Regions from separate parts of the Homo sapiens genome. Here all the other regions are linked to region 1. The links come from fine-mapping of genetic effects on gene expression. A gene starts in region 1. Each other region holds a variant in brackets. All regions are shown on one strand. Distances are between the middles of the regions. Region 1 holds the start of HDHD5 (haloacid dehalogenase like hydrolase domain containing 5). Region 2 overlaps ADA2 (adenosine deaminase 2). Region 3 holds the start of TMEM121B (transmembrane protein 121B).

What was found. PIP is the estimated chance that this variant, and not a neighbour inherited with it, causes the effect.
Region 2: its variant is fine-mapped to the expression of HDHD5 in whole blood (TOPMed, PIP 0.93).
Region 3: its variant is fine-mapped to the expression of HDHD5 in whole blood (TOPMed, PIP above 0.99).

What each region holds. Positions count from the first base shown.
Region 1 is chr22:17,154,857-17,163,031 of GRCh38, reverse strand. HDHD5 (haloacid dehalogenase like hydrolase domain containing 5) reads left to right here and starts at 3,755. Exons shown (of 8, transcript NM_033070.3): 1 at 3,755-3,906. The coding sequence starts at 3,781. It overlaps HDHD5-AS1 (HDHD5 antisense RNA 1), which reads right to left and starts at 3,643. Exons shown (of 2, transcript NR_024483.1): 1 at 3,195-3,643. RefSeq lists a silencer at 3,744-4,073.
Region 2 is chr22:17,184,668-17,192,842 of GRCh38, reverse strand. ADA2 (adenosine deaminase 2) reads left to right here. Exons shown (of 10, transcript NM_001282225.2): 5 at 1,033-1,160; 6 at 2,811-2,901; 7 at 4,396-4,504. Among named protein-coding and RNA genes, the nearest start is that of HDHD5-AS1, 29 kb to the right of the region's middle. RefSeq lists enhancers at 2,508-3,008, 3,897-4,396, 4,397-4,898. The variant G/A (reference allele first, on the strand shown) is at 3,477.
Region 3 is chr22:17,119,563-17,127,737 of GRCh38, reverse strand. TMEM121B (transmembrane protein 121B) reads left to right here and starts at 6,378. Exons shown (of 1, transcript NM_031890.4): 1 at 6,378-8,175. The coding sequence starts at 6,611. It overlaps LINC01664 (long intergenic non-protein coding RNA 1664), which reads right to left and starts at 6,143. Exons shown (of 4, transcript NR_103793.1): 1 at 5,699-6,143; 2 at 2,967-3,083. RefSeq lists an enhancer at 5,420-5,951 and a silencer at 6,537-6,666. The variant T/C (reference allele first, on the strand shown) is at 5,151.

The DNA.
Region 1 (8,175 bases):
AAATATTCTGAACCTGAATACGAAAGAACATCTTAATGTGATTGTGTCGTAACATGACTGGGAATCAAAATAAAGATGCGTTAAGCAACAGCAGGGCAGGGGTTCTGCTTACAATGTCAGCCACAGAGCCTGAGTTTGTTAGTGTTTATTCAGCACTGCCCAAAGGATAGAGCTAGGGGTGGCAGAATATGTGCTCCGTGCATCCGGCAGGATGGGAAGACACCTAGAATAGCACAGGGTAGACGTGAGTGCCCTTGTTCCTGGAAGTGCAAACTCTTTAACATGGCAAGCCTTAGCTGTGAGATTTCTCCTTAGAGGATGGTTCTTACCTTTTACTGGCTTATGAACCCAGAGAATCTAATAAAGACTTATCACGTACACACACAGTCTTTGATTCAATAATCATGTTGGAATCTCCCACAGTGCACCTTCTGTCATCTTTCCCCGAAACAAACAGACAAACAAACCAAACCAACTAAAACAACAGCAAAACCCAGCCCATTTCTGGTTCCTGCTTTGGATGGGCTGGAATGGTCTTATGGCATTCAGTCCACAATGGAGGAAGAATGAAAGCAAGGCAGGCCCATGTGGGGAACACTGCTGACTTAGGCTGAAACTCCTGAAGATTAATAACACTAAGTATGACACAGTCCTGATCACCAAGAATATTAGTTATCTTTTGCTGTATAACGAATTATCCCAAAGTGTAATGACTTAAAACAACAAACCTTCAGTATCTCCCTGTTTCTGAGGGTTAGGAATTCAGGAGTGACTTAGCTGGGTGGTTTTGCCTCAGGGTGGTTCATGAGGTTTTGGTCAAGGGTTCCGCCAGGAATGGAAGCTCCACCTCCAAGAAGATTCTCTCTCCTGACTACTGGTAGGATGCCTCAGATCCTCACCATGTGGGCCTTTCTATAGGGCTGCTTGAATGGCCTCACCACATGACAACTCTACTATGCGTCTAGCTTTCCTAGAATGAGTTATCTAAATGAGGGCAAGGTGGAAGTCACAGTATCTTTTATGACCTAGCCTTGGAAATCAACTACACTCACTTCTGTCCCATGTTATTTATTAAAAAGTCAGTGAAGTCCAGCCCACACTCAATGGGAGGGGAATTAGAATTAGACTCCAGGTTTTTTTTTTTTCTTTTTTTTTTTTTGAGACAGAGTCTCACTCTGTTGCTCAGGCTGTAGTGGCACAATCTTGGCTCACTGCAACCTCTGCCTCCTGAGCTCAAGCGATCCTCCCACCTTAGCCTCCTAGAATAGCTGGGACTACAGGTGTGTGTCACTATGCCTGGCTAATTTTTTTTTTATATATATATTTTGTGGAGACAAGGTTTTGTCACGTTGCCCAGGCTGGTCTGGCATTCCTGGACTCAAGTGATCCACCTGCCTCGGCTTCCCAAGTGTTGGGATTACAGGCATGAACCACCATACCCACCCAACTCCAGCTTTTTTTTTTTTTGGAGACATAGTTCCGCTCTGTCGCTCAGGCTGGAGTGCAGTGGCTCAATCTCAGCTCAGCTCTCTGCAACCTCTGCTTCCCAGGTTCAAGTGATTCTCCTGCCTCAGCCTCCCAAGTAGCTGGGATTACAGGCACACACCACCATGCCTGGCTAATTTTTGTATTTTTAGTAGAGACAGAGTTTCACCATGTTGGCCAGGCTGGTCACGAACTCCTGACCTCAGATGATCCACCTACCTCGGCCTCCCAAAGTGCTGGGATTACAGGCATGAGCCACTGTGACCGGCCTTTTTTTCTTCTTTCTTTTTTTTTTTTTTTTGAGATAGAGTCTCACTCTGTTGCCCAGGCTCGAGTACAGTGGCACGCTCTCAGCTCACTGCAACCTCCACCTCCCAGGTTCAAGCGATTCTCCTGCCTCAGCTTCCCAAGTAGCTGGGATTACAGGTGCATGACGAGCTAATTTTTGTATTTTTAGTAGAGACGGGTTTCGCCATGTTGGCCAGGCTGGTCTTGAACTCCTGATCTCAGATGATCCGCCTGACTTGGCCTCCCAAAGTGCTGGGATTACAGGTGTGAGCCACCGCGCCTGGCTATGCTTTTGAGGAGCCGATTGTCAAAAAAAACTGTGGGCATGTTTAAAAGCCATCATACCAAGAAATTTCTAATGACTAAATCAGTTTCTAGGTAGTTTAATAGAAGGAAGGGATTAGGAACATTGCAATCCTAGAGAGCTATGTCCCCTGGCAGGGTTTAAGTGTCGGGCTATTGTGAGTTTGACTGACTTGAATTAGTCTTCCAAATTCTGATTAGCTGTAGTTGAACTGAATTAAGATCTTGCCCTTCAAAGCTGAGGACCAAAGGACACCGCTAACTACTTCTTCATTTTATTATTATTATTATTATTTTTTTTTTTTTCAAGACGGAGTCTCACTCCGTCACCCAGGCTGGAGTGCATTGGCGCAATCTCGGCTCACTGCAACTTCTGCTGCCTGGGTTCAAGCGATTCTCCTGCCTCAGCCTCCCGAGTAGCTGGGACTTGAGGCGCCTGCCACCGCGCCTGGCTAATTTTTGCAGTTTTCAGCAGAGACGGGGTTTCACCATCTTGGCTAGGTGGTCTTGAACCCCTGACCTCCTGATCCACTCGCCTCAGTCTCCCAAAGTGCTGGGATTACAGGTGTGAGCCACCGCACCCGGCCCTATTTTATTATTTTTAAAATAGAGAAGGGGTCTCCCTATGTTGCCCAGGCTGGTCTGGAACTCCTGGACTCAAGTTTTCCTCCCACCTTGACCTTCCAAAGTTCTGGGATTACAGGGGTGAGCCACCGCACCCTGGCCTGCTAATGTGTGAGCTAGTGCAGTCTCTGTCCATATCCTCGACTCCCTCTCTGCTAGTGCTAAGTACATTGTAGGGTCCCGCGTTTTTAGCATAGCTATACCTATGAATGGGCCAAAGAATCTGAGGGCATCCTACACATTTCAAACGGTGGGAATGGAGACCTCTTTCCTCCAGCAGAATCTCCCCTCATGACCGGGGGACTACCAGATCCAGCTCTGCTAAGGGCCTCCACGGACGGAGTCGGCTACCTCTCCACTTTCAGTGACCGAAATCCATTCTTTGTTCATTCACCCTTGTGTCTACTCCGGGAAACGCGCAGCGGACACAGTCGTGTTCCCTAAGTGTTTGCTGACTTAGTCATCTGGCCCTCTCTGGAGTAGTCATTTTGTACCTTGTACTACATTCGTGCCTCTACCTCTCCGCAGTGCGCGCGGGGGCGGACTCACGTGCGCAGTCTCCCTATGCGCTGGGAGGGCGTCAGCAGGTTTACAGAAACAATGAAAGACTTAACAATTGGCGCGCGACGAGCGTCCCTTGACTGGCAGGGGCCCAGAGGACCTGAACATCACTAAGGGTCTGCCCCAGCGGCCCGGCCCTGAAGTCAAGGTTGAGACCCCCGGCCCAGACAGTCCGCGAAGCTGAGGGAGGCCGGCCTGGGGCCTGCCGCGCAATGTTACCGGGATCCGCAGGCACAGGGCGATAGTACGGACGCCGCCGCCCAGGCCGTGCCCATTGTGCGCCGCGGCCAGCTCACCGCGATCTCGGTCTAGGAGGCGGCGGGACCCCGCACTTCTTCCTTGCAACGGAGCCCCTTTGGCCTGCGGGTCGAGTTCCATAGGCGCCCGACGGGCTCCGCGCGCTTACAGGACTACAACTCCCGTGATGCCGCGCGCGCCGACCGCTGATTGGCTGTGCAGCGGACGGACTCGCGGGGGGGGGGGGCCGCACGCCGTGCACGTGCGCACGGCGACGGCCGGATGGCTGCGTGGGGCTGTGTGGCTGCGCTCGGCGCGGCGCGTGGGCTTTGCTGGCGGGCGGCGCGCGCGGCTGCGGGGCTCCAGGGCCGCCCCGCCCGCAGGTGCTATGCTGTGGGCCCCGCTCAGGTGAGGACGTCCGGGTTCTGGCCGAGCCACTCGCCACTCAGGGCCGGAGGCGGGGCGGGGAGCCGCGGGGAAGGAGGGGCGGCCGGGCTGGTATCCCAGCCTCCTGGGAACTGCCTGGACCGTCGTCGCGCCCGAGTGCATCGCGTTCTTGCTGGAGGGCGGATGCGCCCTGCCTTCCTCTGACTCGCTGGCGGCCTCGGAAACGCTACTCCCGCGGGAGAGCGCTCGTGGGACGGCCTGGGCCAGGCTGCTTGTCAGCCCCTGCGCTTCCCGGCAGTTTCCGCGTCCCTGTTTTCCCTGCGCGTCTTCTGATTTCCACCATGAGGACGTTTGGGTCGTGATTTTCATCTGCATGTGGAGGAAACTGGGCCGCGCGCCGGGAGCCGCGCCTGCGGGTGCTCCGCCCCCAAGTGCCTGTGGGTTTGGTGCGGGCCTTGGGTTCAGTTCAGCTCGCTGTGACCTCGACTGAGCGCTGGAGGCTCCGCGGGCGGGAGCAGGAGGGCTGGAGCCGGCGCCTGCTGTGTGCCCGGCGCGGTAGTGATGTGTGAGCCTCCCCGCAACTTCTGAGAAGGTGTGACCTTGTGTGGTCAGGAAGCCGAAGCTTGACGAGTTTTCAAGTACGTTTTCTCAGGTCCTGCAGCTGGGAGACGGCACAGGACACTAAACCAGGTTGGTCAGATCCACGGCTCTCACGCTCCCTTGGGCCGTTTTGCCTTTTCTGGAAAAAGGAATCACTTTGTCTTCTAAACGCACAAGTAATATTTTACATTAACATACGGATTTCACAGTAATCCTTGCATTTTTTTTTTTTAGACGGCATCTCTGTCACCAGGTTGGAGTGCAGTGGCGCAATCTCTGCTCACTGCAACCTCCGCCTCCCGGGTTCAAGCGATTCTTCTGTCTCAGCCTCCCGAGTAGCTGGGATTACAGGCACCCGCCACCACATCCGGCTAATTTTTGTATTTTTAGTAGAGACAGGGTTTCACCATGTTGGCCAGGCTGGTCTCGAACTTTTGACCTCAGATGATCCTCACATCTTGGCCTCCCAGAGTGGTGAGATTACAGGCATGAGCCAGTGCACCCGGCCAAATTACTTGCATGAAAAAAACACATAGTGCTTACTTTGTGCCAGGCACTATTCTAAGTACTTCACAGTTATTCGTATAATCTTTATAACAACTCCGAGGAAAGTACTATTATTAGTCTTCCCATTTTATAGATGGAGCAGAGGCACAGAGAGGTTAAGCAGCTTACCCAAGGGCACACAGCTGGTAAGTGGCAGAATCTGGAACTCAGGTAGTCTGGTGCCAGAGTCTAAGCTCTTAACAGCTGTATTATTTTTATGATTTTTAAATATGGAGCAGCTAAGGTTCAAAGCAGCTGAGTGACTTGGCCAGTGTCACATAGCTAGACGTGACCAAGGTGGAAGTTTGAAATTAGAATATGTTGATAAAAGGACTTACAAACTGTCAGGATATAAATATAAGGAAATATCGCCCTTATTTATAACTGTTGTATTGGCTCTAGCATCTCTGCAGAGTCCCGAAATGTCTCCAAGTGACTCTTCCGGTAGAGCAGAAAAAGAAGAATGCAGGATGACAGAGTTTGAGCACGAGCTTTAGAATTGAATCCTGTGCAGTCTGTTAGCGGCTTCACTTAAGGCAATTTACATAGCTTTCCAAGCTCAGTTTCCCCATCTATGTAATGGATCTATTACTTGTAATCCCAGCTACTCGGGAGGCTGAGGCAGGAGAAGCCCTTGAACCTGGGAGGGAGGTTGCGGTGAGCGGAGATCGGGCCATTGCACTCCAGCCCGGGCAACAGATCCTGACTCTTATCAAAAAAAAAAAAAAAGAAAATTAACCTTAGTTTAACTTTCTTGCTTTACCAAGTTTTTAATTTTTAAAATTTTTTACTCTTTTGTAATAGCACTTAGTTTAAAACACAACACATTGTACAGCTGTACTAAATATATCTTCATTTATATCATTGTTCCATAGCTTTTTTCTTTTGTGTGTGTGTGTGTGTGTGTGTGTGTGTATGTGTGTGAGACGGTGTCTAGCTCTGTTGCCCGGGCTGGAGTGCAGTGGCGCCATCTCGGTCCACTGCAACCTCTGCCTCCCAGGTTCAAGTGATTCGCCTGCCTCAGCCTCCCAAGTACGTGGGATTACAGGCGCCTGCCACCACGCCCAGCTAATTTTTGTATTTTTAGTAGAGACGGGGTTTCACTGTGTTGGCCAGGCTGGTCTCGAACTCCTGACCTCATGATCCGCCTGCCTTGGTTTCCCAAAGTATTGGGATTAGAAGCATGAGCCACCGTGCCCAGCCAGCTTTTTTTTTTTTTTTGAGACGGAGTCTCGCTCGCTCTGTTGCCCAGGCTGGAGTGGAGTGGCGTGGTCTCGGCTCACTGCAAGCTCTGCCTCCTGGGTTCACATCATTCTCCTGCCTCAGCCTCCGGAGTAACTGGGAGTATAGGTGCCTGCCACCACGCCTGGCTAATTTTTTGGATTTTTAGTAGAGATGGGGTTTCACTGTGTTAGCCAAGATGGTCTCGATCTCCTAACCTCGTGATCTGCCCTCCTTGGCCTTGCAACATGCTGGGATTACAGGCAGCTTTTTTCTATTAAAAAAAATTACAGGTGTGCACCACCACGCCCGGCTAATTTTTTGTATCTTTGGTAGAGATGGGGTTTCACCATGTTGGCCAGACTGGTCTCGAACTCCTGACCTCATGATACGCCCGCCTTGGCCTCCCAGAGTGCTGGGATTACAGGCGTGAGCCACAGTGCCCTACCTTAAAAAAAATTTTTTTTTTTAACTTTTGTTAAAAATGAAGACACAAACACCTACTAGCCCAGGCCTACATAAGGTCGGGTCAGGTAATTGATATCACTGTCTTCTGCCTTCACACCATGTCCCATTAGAAGGTCTTTAGGGGGCAGTCATATGCATGGAACTGTCATCTGCGATAACAGTGCTTTCTTCTGGATATCTTCTGAAGGACCTCTCTGAGGCTCTTGAGGTGTCACTCTTATCAGAAATATGTCCATTGTGGTTTGCTTGGTTTCTTTTTTTTTGTCATAGGTTTGCTTGTAAACAGATAATGTACCATAAACATTCTTCTCTAGTAATGAAAACCTTTTGGCGTTGGAGTTCATGTTTCAGACTTTTTAAGGAACTTGAGGTCTGTAAAAGCTGCTGAACCCTTCACTGTGAATTTTCTTGGATGTTCTTTTCTTTCTGTGGCTACCTTTTCTCTTGCCTCTTCTTCAGCTATGAGTTCCTGTTCCATTATAATCTTAAGGGACCATTGTATATGCAGTGTGTCATTGACTGAAACATCGTTATGGTGCGTGACTGTATTACCATCTTGCATTAGTGTGGTACATTTGTTATAATTGATGTACACCTTCACTTTTTATGGTACTGGGTGCCTGGTTCTCTGTGTACATCCTGAAGGTTGGGGAGGGGTTGGAGTGATGGGTGAGGGAGCCTTATGGATATTGCTCAATTTTCCTGAAAACTTTGCTGTTCTAAGTAGCAGGGGCTATGGATTCTTATTTTTAAGAAAGCAGATCTTGGGCCGGGCGCGGTGGGTCATGCCTGTAATCCCAGCACTTTGGGAGGCCGCGACGGGCGGATCACGAGGTCAGGAGTTTGAGACCAGCCTGGCCAATATGGTGAAACCCCGTCTCTACTAAAAATATAAAAAATAAGCCAGGTGTGTTGGCGCGCGTCTGTAGTCCCAGCTACTTGGGAGGCTGAGGCAGGAGAATCACTTGAACCCAGGAGGCAGAGGTTGTAGTGAGTCGAGATTGCACCACTGCACTCCAGCCTGGGTGACAGTGAGACTCCGTCTCAAAAAAAACCAACCAAACAAAAAAAAAAAAAAAAGGAAAGCAAATCTTGTGACTGTTTAGGCAATGACCGTTAAAACTATGTATGGTAAATTTTGCAACCATTGTACAAATGAGCTGTTTTTTAACTATGTAAGTTTTCAAAAATTCAAAAATGGGGAATAATATGAACCCCTGTGCCCATCTCCCAGATTGAGCAATGATTAACATTTTTCAACACCTGCTTTGCTTATCTCCCTCCTCCTTTTTTTGTGGCTCTAAGATTTTAAAGTAAATCTCTGATTTCTTGTCATTTCAAACCTAAATTCTTCTGTGTGTACCTCTAAGAAAAATAAGGACATTCTGGCTGGGTGCCATGGCTCACACCTGTAATCTGAGCACTTTGGGAGTTGGAAGGATTACTTGAGCCCAG
Region 2 (8,175 bases), 30 kb before region 1:
CCTTTTTTTTTTTCGAGACAGAGTCTTGCTTTGTCGCCCAGGCTGGAGTGCAGTGGTATGATCTTGGCTCACTGCAACCTCTGCCTCCCGGGTTCAAGCGATTCTCCTGCCTCAGCCTCCCCAGTAGCTGAGATTAACAGGCATGTGCCACCATGCCCAGCTAATCTTGTATTTTTGGTAGAGATGGGGGTTTCACCATGTTGGCCAGGCTGGTCTTGAACTCCTGACCTCAAGTGATCCCCCTGCCTCGGCCTCCCAAAGTGCTATGATTACAGGTGTGAGCCACCTTTCCCCATTACACACCTCCCTTCCCTTAGCTTCCTTGTCACCTGCCCACTCCCAACTCTCCCCACTCTGCTCTCACTGTGTCCCCCTTGCTGTCCCTGGTGGCAGTGGCCGCCTTGCAGCTGCTGCACCTGGAGTTAGGGAAGCAGTGGGGAGGTGAGCAGGTAGTGGGGAATGACGTCATTCTCAGATCACTCTTTCTAGCTTTCATCCTCTCCCCCCGTGACCTGCTCTTCAACCATTATGCAGATGCTTAATGGGCACCTACCCTCGCGTGTGCCATGTGCTGTTTTAAGTGCAGTGACCCAGCAATGAAGGAGACAGGTGGGCATCAGCATCAGGGTTATCCCAGAGCCAGCTAGGAATTCCCCATGCAGCAGCAGAGACAATGCCCAAGGCCGTAGAGGACCTGAACAAGGGAAGCACAAGTCCAGCCTGGCTGGACTTTTGGGAACAAGGCCACTTGGCCTAATCCAAACACAAATAAAACTGTTTTGTGGGTCCCCTGACCCCATCTACTTTTCCCAGAGCTCGTTGATGGCTGGGAAGGAGTTGACTGGGAAGGAGGTGGCTGGGCAAGGGTGGCTGGGCAGGGGTGGCTGGGCAAGGGTGGCTGGGAAGGGGTGGCTGGGAAGGGGGTGGTTGGGCAGGGGTGGCTGGCCAGGGGTGGCTGGGCAGGGGTGGCTGGGAAGGGGGTGGCGTCTCTCACTGCTCACCTGACGGCTCCTGGTTGTGCTTTCTTCCCAGGTGTATGAGCTCAGTGGAGAGCACCATGACGAAGAGTGGTCAGTGAAGACTTACCAGGAAGTAGCTCAGAAGTTTGTGGAAACTCACCCTGAGTTTATTGGAATCAAAATCATTTATTCGGATCACAGGTGAGAGAGAATATTGCTGAAAAGCTCGGGTTGGGAGGCTGGGATGCAGGCAGAGCTACTAGGCTGGGAGGGGAGGGGTGAGAAGCGGGGCTGGGAGGCCGGGAGAGGCCCAGCACTGGTGCCAAGGAGCTGTGCTGTGCCTGTGTGAGAGCACAGTCCTAGGTAAGTGCGGTGACCCAACAATGAATTGCTGCCTGAAGCCACTTCTAGTTCAGGTCTTCACCCCCAAACTGAAATGAAGAATGTGTGAATTTCCCAGATAATTCTCGGCTGTGACCCCACATTGGCCTGGTGACTCATTTATGAGCATAATGGTTTTGCCTGAATGTTTGGATAATTGGCCCGTTTTTGGTTTCAATTTGCCTCTGGGTTCTGTGTGTGGTTGTGTGTGAGTCCTTGATCACGGAGACACCCTGAGTGGCACTGGCTCAAGTCTGCGTGTGGGGACCTCCAGTAGTACCATGTGCGTGGCCTGGCACGTGGGTGAAAGACCCACTCTTTTTCCCAGGGAAGCACAGAAAGCTTTGCAGCTTAATTGTCCTTCTGACTTTACCAGACAAGACCCCTCCCCTCACTTTAAAGAGCAGCCAGTCTAAGGCTGGGACCTGTCCATGGTCGCAGCTGCAAGGGCAGCAGCCAGTGGGGTCCCTCGGAGTCAGGCACGGGGCGGGCACCGAAGGGATCCGGCAGCGGCTCCCTCTGCTCAGCTCACCCACGAGCCTGGGCTCTGGAGGGCACTGACTCCCCAGGAGCCTCCTCCCATGCCCAGTCTTCCTGAGTCCCCTTCCCTTCCATGGGGCCTGGGGCCTGGAGGAGCTAAGCTCTGGCTTTGTGCCGGTCCCCCTAGGAGGGAGCTTGCAGGATGGGCCCACGTTCTGCTCAGAGGCTCCCTGGTGCCAGGTGCCCCTTCCCAGGGCCAGTGGCAGGAGGGTGTGAGGGCTGAGCTGAGTGCATCAGTGCCCCCAGGTTTGCCTAGGCTCTGGGGAGAGGCCATGGGTGGGGCAGGCCAGGAAGGCTTTATCCCCACAGAGCCGAGGATTGGAGCAGGAGAGCCAGTGGCAGGGCAAAGACCTTGAGCCTGTCGTGGGCTTGCGCCAGACCCTGTGTTTTGGGGCTTTTGTTGTCATGCTGCCTGCCTTGCCCCTGTAGGGTTCTGCAGTACCCAGGATCTTGCTGACTTAATCAGCAAGAGGCCATATGGTTACTGGGTCCAGCCGACCCATCAGGGACTTGGGTGACCTGTGGCCCTTTGCAGGTGTGCAGTGGACAGAGAGCTGCCCCTGAGCTGCATCCATGTCTACACCCCCGACAGAGATGCAGGGAGAGCTGGGAACAAGGCCACCTGGCCTCCTCTAAACGCAGACAAATAAAACTGTTCCCGTGGGTCCTCTGACCCCATCTACTTTTCAGAGACTACAGGTGCCCCCAGAGCCAGCAAGGGTCTTTGATAAGAATGGATTTGGGCTACATATCTCTCAGGGATCACAATGGCCTGGTCAGGGTGGGGTCAGGAGGGCAGGGGTGCCTCAGGTTTGGGAAACGGGACCTGCACACTTGGGGCTGGCCCAGCCCTGCACGGAGGGTGTGCTCTGGGGTTTGTGCTCTGTCGGTGCTGGGCACTGTCTCCTGGCTTCTCTGTCTGTCTCACAGATCCAAAGATGTGGCTGTCATCGCAGAATCCATCCGAATGGCCATGGGGCTCCGAATCAAGTTCCCCACGGTGGTGGCAGGGTTTGACCTGGTAACCCATGCTGTGAACAGAAGGGCTGCCTGTTAAGGGGGCATGCGAGGATGCCTGTCTGGGTGGAGCGGCAACTCCCTGGGAAGGGAGCGCAATGTGCCTGTTGGTACCCTGACATCCCAGGGCAGGCTCAGGCTGCTGACACAGCAGGGCTGCTCAGAGCTCAGCGCTGACCCTCTTCAGAGGCCTACAGGGGACGGCTGTCACTGGAGAAGGGAGAGCAGACAGCCAGTTCTAACAAGCTAACAAGGAAAGTTCCAGAATAAGGATGGCATTCAGGGAGTTTGGACCACAGTTATGGGCTCATTCCCCATGGCCCTGCCTGTGCCCTTTTTTCTATCCCACACTGCTCACCTAGGTGTGGGTCTTAAAACCCTCACCAGCCCCTGTAGCACGCGGGGTGGGGACTGGGGGGTAATGTCTGGAAACAGAGTCCAGGATGGAGCCAGGCCTTTGCAAATCCTCAAGGTAGTGATATTTGTCCCTCCCTCTCCAGCCATCATGCCTGGCCACACCAGTTTTTGAAGCTACACATTCATAGGTGTTGTCATTGTCCCACACCTCCCCACCAAATC[G/A]AAGCACAACCAGGACATTTCTTAGGTGACAGCTCGGCAATCTCATAAAGAATCTAGGCCGGGTGCAGTGGCTCATGCCCTCAGCACTTTGGGAGGGCGAGACAGGTGGATCACCTGAGGTCTGAAGTTCAAGACCAGCCTGGCCAACATGGAGAAACCGCATCTCTACTAAAAACACAAAAATTAGCCAGCCTTGGTGGCCTGCACCTGTAATCCCAGCTACTTGGGAGGCTGAGGCAGAATCACTTGAACTCAGGAGGCAGAGGTTGCAGTGAGCTGAGATTGCACCATTGCACTCCAGCCTGGGCGACAGAGCAAGACTCCATCTCAAAAAAAAAAAAAAAAAAGAATCTAGATTAGTCCAGGGCAGTGGCTCACTCCTGTAATCCCAGCACCTTGGGGGGCCAAGGTGGGAGGGTCACCTGAGTCCAGGAGTTCTAGACCAGCCTGAGCAAATCGGTGAGACCCCGTCTTTACAAAATATATATATATATATATTTTTTGCTCTTGGCCAGGCTGTAGTGCATTGGTGTGATCTCAGCTCACTGCAAGTTCTGCCTCCTGGGTTCATGCCATTCTCCTGCCTCAGCCTCCCAAGTAGCTGGGACTACAGGCACCCGCTACCACACCTGGATAATTTTTTGTATTTTTAGTAGAGATGGGGTTTCACTGTGTTAGCCAGGATGGTCTCGATCTCCTGACTTCGTGATCTGCCTGCCTCGGCCTCCCAAAGTGCTGGGATTACAGGTGTGAGCCACCACGCCTGGCCTGCTCCTGGTCATTCTTAAAAGGCTGTGTGACAAAGGTCCCGGCAGTGGTGGCAGGGTACAAGGAAGGGTGTGCACAGGCTCCAGGGCGCGCCATCAGCAAGTGAGGCATGCGCCCTGCAGACACCTCCCTGTCCCTCTCTGTCCTGCAGGTGGGGCATGAGGACACTGGCCACTCCTTGCATGACTACAAGGAAGCTCTGATGATCCCCGCCAAGGATGGCGTTAAGCTGCCTTACTTCTTCCACGCCGGAGAAACAGGTGAGCCTGCGGGATGCGAGCAGAGGCAGCGGAGGTGGTCAATGGGAGAGCTCCTGGCCACAGGCCCATGCCTCAGGGTTAGAGCCTACAGGCGTTTCCAGAGCCCTTTCCTGTGCTCTATCTCACTTAATCCTGACAACAGCCCCATGGAGAAGGAATAACAAGGATAATAGAATCAGCCACTTTACATGTATTATTTCTAGTTTCTCTTTCTTCTTTCCTTCCTGTTTTCTTTTCTTCTTCTTCTTTTTTTTTCTTTTTTTTACGGAGTCTCCCTCTGTCGCCCAGCTCACTGCAACCTCGGCTTCCCAGGTTCAAGAGAGTCTCCTGCCTCAGCCTTCCAAGTAGCTGGTACTACAGGCACCTGCCACCACGCCTGGCTAATTTTTTGTATTTTTAGTAGAGACGGGGTTTCACCGTGTTAGCCAGGATGGTCTTGATCTCCTGACCTCATGATCTGCCCTCCTCGGCCTCCCAAAGTGCTGGAATTACAAGGGTGAGCCACTGCGCCTGGCCTTTTCTAATTGATTTCTGATTGTTTCCCCAGTTTTTAATCTCCATTTGATAGATGAAGAGCCCAAGGCTCCAAACACAGTGGTCCAGGGTTAAAGAGCTGGTGCGCAGTGGAGTCTGAATTTGAATCCTTCTTCTTCTTCTTTTTTTTTTTTTTTTTAATTTTTCGTGGTAGGGGCATAATCCTGCAAACTCACATCATCCTACTTTGGCTATAAAAATTCGTTTTAGGCTGGGCACAGGCACAGTGGCTCATGCCTGTAATCCTAGCACTTTGGAGGCTGATGTGGGTGGATCTCTTTAAACCCAGGAGTTTGAGGCCAGCCAGGGCAACATGGCAAAACTTTGTCTCTACAAAAAAATACAAAAATTAGCCAGGCATGATGGTACACACCTGTGGTCCCACCTACTTAGAGGCTGAGGTGGGAGGATTGCCTGAGCCCAGGCTCACTGAACTCCAGCCTGGGTGACAGAGCTAGACCCTGTCTCAAAAAAAAAAGTGTTTTAGCCAGGTACAGTGGCTCACATCTGTAATTCTAGCACTTAGGGAGGCAGAGGCAGGAGGATCACTTGAGCCCAGGAGTTTGAGACCAGTCTGGGCAACATAGTAAGATTCCATTCTACACAAAAAGGAAAACAAATTTTTTTTTTTTTTTTTTGAGATGGAGTCTCGCTCTGTGGCCCAGGCTGGAGTGCAGTGGTATGATCTCGGCTCACTTGCAAGCTCGGCTTCCTGGGTTCATGCCATTCTCCTGCCTCAGCCTCCCAAGTAGCTGGGACTACAGGTGCCCGCCACCACGCCCGGCTAATTTTTTGTATTTTTAGTAGAGACGAGGTTTCACTGTGTTAGCCAGGATGGTCTCGATCGCCTGACCTTGTGATCCACCCGTCTAGGCCTCCCAAAGTGCTGGGATTACAGGTGTGAGCCACTGCACCTGGTCAATTTTTTTGTTTTTTGAGATGGAGTCTCACTCTGTCACCCAGGCTGGAGTGCAGTGGTGCGATCTTGGCTCACTGCAACCTCTGCCTCCCGGGTTCAAGTGATTCTTCTGCCTCAGCCTCTGGAGAAGCTGGGATTACGGGCATGCACCACCATGCCTAGCTAATTTTTGTATTTTTAGTAGAGATGGGGTTTCACCATGTTGGTTAGGCTGGTCTTGAACTCCTGACCTCAAGTGATCCACCCACCTCAGCCTCCCAAAATGCTGGGATTACAGGCTTGAGCCACGGAAAAAAATTCTTTTGAGACAGAGTCTTACTGTATCGCCCAGGCTGGAGTGCAGTGGTGCGATCTCGGCTCACTGCAACCTCTGGCTGCCAGGTTCAAGTGATTCTCGTGCCTCAGCCTCCCGAGTAGCTGGGATTACAGGCGCCCACCAACACACCCGGCTAATTTTTGTATTTTTAATAGGGATAGGGTTTCACCATGTTGGCCCAGGCTGGTCTTGAACTCCCAACCTCAAACAATCCACCCGCCTTGGCCTCCCAAAGTGCTGGGATTACCCGGCCTCATGTGATATTTTGATGCCTGTATATAATGTGTATGAATTGGAACACTTTCTGACGCTCTCCATCCTCCGAGTGAATTGTGCTTGAGAGGTTAACTGATCTGCCTAAAGCCACACAGCTGGAAATTGGCAGAAGAGGGAGGAGAACCAGGTCTGCTCCTTGTCTTTAGGATGTTCTGTCCCGCATTATCGTAGGAGAGGAAACCCTGCCCTGCCCCATGCAGGCCCTGGCTGCTGTTCCTCCTGAAACGCCATCAGCCCAGCCACATCTTTCTTTCCCAGAACTCCATCCTTGGGCTCGCTCAGTCATCTCAGCCCCTCCCGTATTCCAGTCCTTAAAATGTGTAAACCCTAACTAAGAAAGATCACGGCTGCAATTTCAGATCCAAAGGAAGATTTGGGAGGAGGCTGTTCACATGGAGGCCGGGACCAGGAGGGCAGCTCTCTTCAGCATCCCACCTGTCACCCTCGGAAGACCAAAGAGGGGTGGAGAGAGTGGTGGGCAATTTCATTTCCCACCCAGGCTTAAGCTCTGCTCTATCACACCTTCTCTCAGAGAAAGGGACCTTGTGCATTAATCTCTTTTTCCTGACATTTCGAGTCAATTTAGATCCAATTTAGATCAAAGTCTGCTCTAGGAGAGCAGAAGAATTGTTTGAGGGGGAGGGGGTTGGGCGAGGGTGTTGTTAACCTTGAAGAGCTTGTGGTCTGGTTGGGGAAAATCATACTTATGTGTGTGAAATAATTCTGGCCCTACAAAACATTGCAGCTCAGGACCTAACAGGTTCCAAGATGTATGGTCCTTGGAGATGATTTTGCCAGGACTTGGGTATCTAATACCTAAAAGTAATGTCCTTATTTTTATTTTTTTATTTTATTTTATTTTATTTTATTTTATTTTTTGAGACGGAGTCTCGCTCTGTCCCCAGGCTGGAGTGCAGTGGCACGATCTCAACTCACTGCAAGCTCCGCCTCCCAGGTTCACGCCATTCTCCTGCCTCAGCCTCCCGAGTAGCTGGGACTACTCGGGCGCCTGCCACCACGCCCGGCTAATATTTTTTGTATTTTTAGTAGAGACGGGGTTTCACCATGTTGGTCATGCTGGTCCGGAACTCCTAACCTCGTGATCCGCCCACCTCGGCCTCCCAAAGTGGTGGGATTACAGGTGTGAGCCACCACACCCGGCCAATATCCTTATTTTTAAAAAGAAAAAGAAATCTTTAAAAACCAGTGAAAATCCACCAAAACACATGTGCTACATAGCAATGGAAATTCTTGAGTTTTATTTCTATCAGGAAAGTGGAGTTTTCATATATATATATATATATATATATTTTGACATGGGCACTCTGTCACCCAGGCTAGAGTGCGGTGGTGTGATGACAGCTCACTACAGCCTCCACCTCTGTCACCCAGGCTAGAGTGTGGTGGCGTGATCACAGCTCACTACAGCCTCCACCTCCTGGGTTCAGGTTATCCTTCCACCTCAGCCTCCTAAGTAGCTGGGACTGCAGCCACATGCCACCATGCCTGGCTAATTTTTGTATTTTTTGTAGAGACAGGGTGTCTCTATGTTGCCCATGGCTGGCCTTGAACTCCTGGGCTCAAGCAATCCTCCTGCCTCAGCCTCCCAAAGTGCTGCGATTACAG
Region 3 (8,175 bases), 35 kb after region 1:
AAACAAATAAACAAACAAAAAACAAAGTGTTAGGATTACAAGAATGAGCCACCATGCCCAACCATATTTCCTTCTTTGTGTTTTCATTGTACTTGCTTTTCTTTCTCCAACTTTTATTTACTTATTTTGAGACAGGATCTCACTCTGTTGCCTAGGCTGGAAGTGGTGTGATCATGGATCACTGTAGCCTCAAACTGCTGGGCTCAAGAGGTCTTCACCTCAGCCTCCCAAGTAGCTGGGTCTACAGGCATGTACCATCATGCCTGGCTAATATTTTAATTTTTTATAGAGACAACGTCTTGCTATGTTACCCAGGCTGATCTCAAACTACTAGCCTCAAGTGACCCTCCTGCCTTAGCCTCCCAAAGTGCTGGAATGACAAGCCACTGTGCTCAGCCAATTTATTAAGTTGGATGTTTACCTTATTAAATGTTCAATTTTCTCCTTTGTAACACAAACATTTAAAGCTATAAATGTTCTTCTTCTGCTTTGGCTATGTCCCATCCATTTTGACAGGTGGTATTTTCATGTTCATTTAGTTCTAAATATTTTCTAATTTTTGGATGATTCATTTGGAAGTATGTCTTTACACTTCCAAATATGTGGGGGGTGGTTGGTCGTTGTTTTGTTATTTTATTCTAATCTAATTGTTGTGAGGTCAAAGGATTGGTCTGTACATGGTCAGGCTTTGTAAATGTTGCATGTAAAATTGTAAACAATGTGTAGTATCTAGTTTTGGAGGTACAGAGCTCTAAATTCAGCCATTTAGATCAAGCTTGTTAATGATATGGTTCAACTTGTATACATCTGTACCAATGTTTTATCTGTGTGAACTATCAATTACTGAGAGATGTGTTTATATTTCTTACTATCATTAGGTTATTTGCCAGTGTCTCATAAATATTACCCATTTTTATTTATATATTTTAGGGCAATGTTATTGAATACACACACATTCAGAACTATGGTCTTTCTGGAACTTGGTCCTTTTACAGCAGCAAATATGTATATAGCACTTTGTGCTGAGCACTTTCTATCTATTAATTCATTTACTCCTCATAACAACTCTGTGAAGTGGGTACTATTATTTTCCCCATTTTCTAGTGGGAAAATCAAGGAAAGAGAGATTAAGTAATTTGCCTAAGGTCACTCAGCTTCTAAATGGTGGAGTCAGCCAGGCGCGGTGGCTCATGCCTGTAATCCCCGCACTTTGGGAGGCCGAGGTGGGCAGATCACCTGAGGTCAGGAGTTCAAGAACAGCCTGGCCAACATGGTGAAACTCTGTCTCTACTAAAAATACAAAAAAAAATTAGCTGGGTGTGGTGACGGGCGCCTATAATCCCAGCTACTTGGGAGGCTGAGACAGGAGAATTGCTTGAACCTGGGAGGAAGAGGTTGCAGTGAGCCGAGATCGTGCCACTGCACTCGAGCCTGGGTGACAAAGTGAGGCTCCGTCTCCAAAAAATAAAAAAAATAAATAAAAATAAAATAAAACTAAATGGTGGAGTCAGGGTTTGAATCCAGGTAGTCTGGCTATAGAGTATGTGCCCTTCACTACTATGGTGTACTGTCTTCTATCATTACATAGTGAACTTCTTTATCCCTAAGAATATTCTTTGTCATATAGTTTATTTTTTTGGTATTAATATTGCCAAACCCACTTTTTAAAGTTGATATTTGCCTAGTTTAATTATATACATGCATTAAATTATATTTGTGTATTTTTTCTTCAGCCCTTTTTTACTTTGTTTGTCTTTATATTTTAGGGATGTTTCTCTTTTTCTTTTATTTATTTATTTTTGAGACAGGGTCTTGCTCTGTCACCCAGGCTGGGGTGCAATGGCGTGATCATAGCTCACTGCAACCTCCAACTCCTGGGCTCAAGGGATCCTCCCACTTCAGCCTTCTGACTAGCTGGGACTACAGGCATGTATCACTACACCTGGCTAATTAAAAACGATTTTTTGAAGGCCGGGCATGGTGGCTCACGCCTGTAATCCCAGCACTTTGGGAGGCCGAGGTGGGAGGATCACCTGAGGTCAGGAGTTCGAGATCAGCCTGACCAACATGGAGAAACCCCGTCTCTACTAAAATTACAAAATTAGCTGGGTGTGTTGGCGCATGCCTGTAATCCCAGCTACTCGGGAGGCTGAGGCAGAAGAATCGCTTGAACCTGGGAGGAGGAGGTTGTGGTGAGCTGAGATCTCACCATTGCCCTCCAGCCTGGGCAACGAGAGTGAAACTCCATTAAAAAAAACAAAAACAAAAACAAAACCTGCGTCCCTCAAAAAAAAAAATGGTTTTTTTTTTTTTTGGTAGAAATGGCATCTCATTTTGTTGCCCAGTCTGGGCTTGAGGGTTCCTTCTGCCTCAGTCTCCCAAAGTGCTAGGATTACAGGCGTGAACCACCATGCCAGGCCATGGGATATTTCTTATAAAAGCCTATAACTGGACATTTAAAAAAAATCCATCTGATCATGTGTCGTTTAATATGACATCTATTGTGATTACTGATTATTTAGCTTTATTTCTACCATCCACTGCATTCTGACTTCTGTTATTTCTGATGAGAAGTCTGCCATTAATCTAATTGTTGTTTGTTGTAAGTAATTTTTTTTTTACTGTTTGATTTCTCTTAAGATCTTTTTCTTGTCTAGAGTTCTACAATTTTACTTGAAAACATCTCGGAGCATGTTTATTTTTATTCATCCTGTTTAGGATTCATTGCAATTCCTAAATCTGTGGGTTGGAGAAGTTCTTTCACCAATTTTGGAAAATTCTCAGTTCAAATTTCTGTATTGTCCTTCCCTTATTGTTTTATATTCTCCTTCTGGAGCTTCTGTTAGACATATTTTGGATATTCCAATCTATCTCTCATGTCTCTTGTCTCCTAGATATTTTCAGTCTCTAGCTCTCTGTACTACATTCTAGAGAATGTCTTCATATATATTGTTAAATTTACTCACTTCAGTTGTGTCTAATTTGCTGTTGAGCTCATCCATTAATTTTTCAGTGACTATACAGCAGTCTCTCCCATTTGCAGTTTCACTTTTCATGGTTTCAGTTCCATGGTAAAGCACTGTCTGAAAATATTAAGATATTTTGAGATAGAGAGGCACCACATTCACATACACTTTTATTATAATATATTGTTATAATTGTTCTATTATTAGTTACTATTCTTAATCTCTTATGGTACCTAATTTATAAATTAAACTTTATCATAGGTATGTATAGGAAAATAAACATAGTATATGTATATCTTCAGTTTCAGGCATCCACTGGAGGTCTTGGAATGAATCCCTCATGGATAAAGGGAGGACTACTATATACTTGAAATCTAAAGGTTTCTTTTCTTTTCTTTGAGACAGGGTCTTGCTCTGTCACCCAAGCTGGAGTACAGTGGCATGATCATAGCTCATTGTAACTTCGAACTCCTGGCCTCAAATGACCCTCCCACTTTAGCCTCCTGGGTGGCTAGGAGTCACAGGCACATGCCACCACGTCTGGCTACTTAAAAAAAAAATTATTTTTATGGCCAGGTGTGGTGGCTCATGCCTGTAATCCCAGCACTTTGGGAGGCTGAGGCGTGCAGATCACCTGAGGTCGGGAGTTCGGGACCAGCCTGACCAACATGGAGAAACCCTGTCTCTACTAAAAATACAAAAATGAGCCAGGTGTGGTGGCGGGCGCCTGTATTCCCAGCTACTTGGGAGGCTGAGGCATGAGAATCGCTTGAACCCGGGAGGCGGAGGTTGCAGTGAGCCGAGATCGCACCACTGCACTACAGCCTGGGGGATAGAGCAAGATTCTGTCTTGAAAAAAAAAATTATTTTTAGAGATGAGGTCTTGCTATCTTGCCCAGGCTGATCTCAAATGTGCCCGGCCAGGTTTTTTGTTTGTTTGTTTATTTTTGGGCACCTCAGGTAGGACTGAAGTGTTTGTTTGTTTGCTTTCCCCCCAGACGGAGTATTGGTGAAACACCATATTGATCAGGCTGGTCTTGAACTCCTGACCTCACCCTGCCCCACATGGGTGGACCCTGGCCCCAACTGGCACCCTGAATGTCTCACACTGTGAGCCTGAGAAGACCGGCTCCAAGAATCAGTGCTCCTAACCATGGCAGCTTTGTTCCTGGGCACTTACCAAAGTGCAACGCTACTGGGGAGCAGAACTCAAGAGTCCAGGCAGAAAACAGCCATTGGTGGCCCCTGCTATGAGTCGATGTTCCCTGGGAGGCTAAGGCATGGGCTAATGGAATGATGATAACACAGAGACCTTTAACTGAGCATGGACTCTGAGCCAGGGACTGGCTCTGTCATCGAAGAGAGATTACACACATGATCTCTCTTCATACTCACAACAATCCCTTAAGGTAGGAGTGAGGTCCTTTTTTTTTTTTTTTTGAGATGGAGTTTTATTCTTGTTGCCCAGGCAGGAGTGCAATGGCACAATCTTGGCTCACTGCAACCTCTGCCTCCCGGGTTCAAGCGATTCTCCTGCCTCAGCCTCCCGAGTAGCTGGGATTACAGGTGCGTGCCACCACCCCTGGCTAATTTTCGTATTATTAGTAGAGGCGGAGTTTCACTGTGTTGGCCAGGCTGGTCTCAAACTCCTGACCTCAGGTGATCTGCCCGCCTCTGCCTCCCAAATTGCTGGGATTATCACCATGCCCGGCTAGTTTTGTACTTTTAGTGGAGATGGGGTTTCTCCATGTTGGTCAGGCTGGTCTCAAACTCCCGACCTCAGGTGATCCGCCCGCCTCGGCCTCCCAAAGTGCTGGGATTACAGGCGTGAGCCACCGCGCCCGGCTGGGGTGGGGTCCTGTTTACAGATCAACATTCTGAGGTGAAATATTCAGGCTAAGACCACAAAGGTGTTAAGTGGCACAGGTGGGATGGCGGCCCCAGAGCTCCTGCCCTCACCACCATGCCAGCTTTCCAAAAGTGGTGTGTGTGGGGGAGGTGGAGATGGTGCAGGTTCTAAATTGTATATTTACCAGGGATTGGCTGTGCAGACTGACCTCCACGGAACTGGAAAAGGCAGGTTTGGCTGAAACGGACTCTTATTTAAGAGGCAGATTTAGGGGCGAGGCCTGACTAACCCCTGCGGCTCCACTGCATACAGCTCCCTCACACTGCATGGTGTTA[T/C]CACGCTGCAAGCTGTTACCTAGGGGAGATGAGCCCGCAGCAGCAGCTTCAAAGGTCATGAAATCAGGGAGCCCACAGGCCCCACAAGGGTGCAGAGGCCAATAGGGCAGGCAAGCTTTCTGCCTTGTTTTCATGGGGCTGGGAATGGGATGTTTCCATTATTGGTGAACCTCAGATTGTTTTTGAGCCCCAACTGCTCTAGTCATTTCCTTCTCCCTTAAACCCCTAAAGGCAGCACTCTACCTTCTGCCTTCCAGAGTTGCTGCATCGACATCCATCCCCAGCCTTGGATGAGTCCTGGGGTGAGCTGGTGTGCTCTCTCCTGAGACTGTCTACGCAGGGCCACTGACTGCATTCCTTCCTTGGTGTCTCTGTCTACTGTGGTGGGCTGTAACCCTCACCATCATCCCTTTGGAGCCTTTGTTTTCATCCAGGTGCCCACACCTCTAAATGCCCCTTTATTTTACTCTCTGCTAGACACATCTTCCTATTACGTCCCATTCTGCTTTAAAAACCTTTGAGAAGCCCGCTGGGCGGATGCCACTTGCCCAATCTCGTTCCCTCGTCTCTCCTCCCAGGCAGGTGTTTTCAGGGAACTTCTCCATCCGCTGGAATCGGGTCGTCCCTGAGATGGCTCGCGACCCCAGGGCTGGGTACATGGATATTTAGGACTATAGGTCTGGGGCTGCTGCCCGAGCCCTTTTTGCCAACATGGCCTGACTCCTCCACTGGTTTTTAGTGCCTTAGGGAGAGGCGGATGGCCCCATGGGAAGGGCGCTGGACGGAGGGTGGAGGCGAAGCTGCCCACTGCCTGCCTCAGAGCTGAGAAGGCCAGGTGCAAAGCCCGCCCTGTAGCTTGAGCCCATCGCTTGGGGGCACCGAAGCCATCTAGGTACTAACGCCCTGCGGTACAGCCGGTGGGATTCCCAGCGACTTCCTTAGGAGTCCGCGCTCCATGGGAGTCCCCCCGCACCGGGTCGCCTCGCCCTGGCGGCTGCCCGCGCCTCCTCCCGCTTCCTCCAGGCCACAGGGCTCCCGACCCGACTGTGACGCACTGCACCCCCGCCCCTTCTCTTCCCGTTGATCCAGCGCGCCGCGCTTTCTCCTCCTCTGGTCTCGCTGCTTCCTCTCCCCCTCGAATCCAGTCCTGGTTTCCCCGCCGCCAGCCTCCCTCCCTCCCGGCGGGACTCGCTCCCCGCCCCGCCCCGCCCCGCCCCCGCCTCGCCTGTCTTCACCGCGGTCCGCTCGGTTCACCGCCTGCCCCCTCTCCCTGCCGCCCGGCCCGGCTCGCCCAGTCCAGTGGCTCCAGTCCGGATCTCGCCGCCGCCCGGCCCAGGTGCGAGTCCCCACTGCTGGGGAGGCGGCGGGCCCCGGCTCCCCTCGGCCGCCTAGCCCGCCTCGCCCGCCCGGGGTTGGCGGGGAGGGAACAGCTGGGCGGCCCCAGAGCCCCTCGGAGGACAATGCGCCCGGCGCTCGGCCACCCTCGCTCGGTCTCCTCCGCGTCCGGTTCCTTCCCGCCGCCCCCGGCAGCCGCCCGGCTGCAGCCCCTCTTCCTCCGCGGGGGCTCCTTCCGCGGCCGGAGAGGCTCCGGCGACAGCAGCACCAGCACCAGCACCAGCCGCGGGGGAGGCGGCGGCAGACGCGGCGGGGGCGGCGGCTCCCCGAGCAGCAGCACGGGCGCCGAGCGCGAGGACGACGACGAGAGCCTCAGCGTCAGCAAGCCGCTGGTGCCCAACGCCGCGCTCCTGGGGCCGCCGGCTCAGGTGGGCGCCCCCGCCGGCCCCGCGCCTGTCGCCTTCTCCTCCTCAGCGGCCACCTCCTCCTCCACCTCCACGCCCACCTCCTCCTGCAGCATGACAGCCGCGGACTTCGGCGGGGGCGCCGCGGCCGGGGCCGTCGGGGGCCCCGGGAGCCGCTCGGCGGGGGGCGCGGGCGGCACCGGGACCGGCAGCGGCGCCTCCTGCTGCCCGTGTTGCTGCTGCTGCGGCTGCCCAGACCGCCCCGGCCGCAGAGGTCGGCGCCGCGGCTGCGCCCCCAGTCCCAGGTGCCGCTGGGGCTACCAGGCGCTGTCCGTGGTGCTGCTGCTGGCGCAGGGCGGCCTGCTGGACCTGTACCTCATCGCCGTCACCGACCTGTACTGGTGCTCCTGGATCGCCACTGACCTGGTGGTGGTGGTGGGCTGGGCCATCTTCTTCGCCAAGAACAGCCGGGGCCGTCGGGGCGGCGCAGCCAGCGGCGCGCACAACCACCACCTGCACCACCACCACGCCGCGCCGCCCCTGCATCTGCCCGCCCCCTCGGCCGCTACCGCTGGGGCCAAGGCACGCGGAGCCCGCGGGGGCGCCGGCGGCGCGGGGGGCGGCCTGGGGGCGGCCGCGGCAGCGGGCGAGTTCGCCTTCGCCTACCTGGCCTGGCTTATCTACTCCATCGCCTTCACTCCCAAGGTGGTGCTGATCCTGGGCACGTCCATCCTAGACCTCATCGAGCTACGCGCGCCCTTCGGCACCACGGGCTTCCGTCTCACCATGGCGCTGTCGGTGCCCCTGCTCTACAGCTTGGTGCGGGCCATCAGCGAGGCGGGCGCGCCCCCGGGATCGGCAGGACCCCTGCTGCTGCAGCCCCAGCGGCACCGCGCGGCCGGATGCTTCCTGGGCACGTGCTTGGACCTGCTCGACAGCTTCACGCTGGTGGAGCTGATGCTGGAGGGCCGCGTGCCGCTGCCCGCGCACCTGCGCTACCTGCTTATCGCCGTCTACTTCCTCACCCTCGCCTCGCCGGTGCTCTGGCTCTACGAGCTCAACGCCGCGGCCGCAGCGGCTGCATCCTGGGGCCAGGCCTCCGGGCCTGGCAGCTGCAGCCGCCTTCTGCGCCTGCTGGGCGGCTGCCTGGTGGACGTGCCCTTGCTGGCGCTGCGCTGCCTCCTGGTGGTCAGCTACCAGCAGCCCCTCTCCATCTTCATGCTCAAGAACCTCTTCTTCCTCGGCTGCCGGGGCCTGGAGGCCCTGGAGGGCTGCTGGGACCGGGG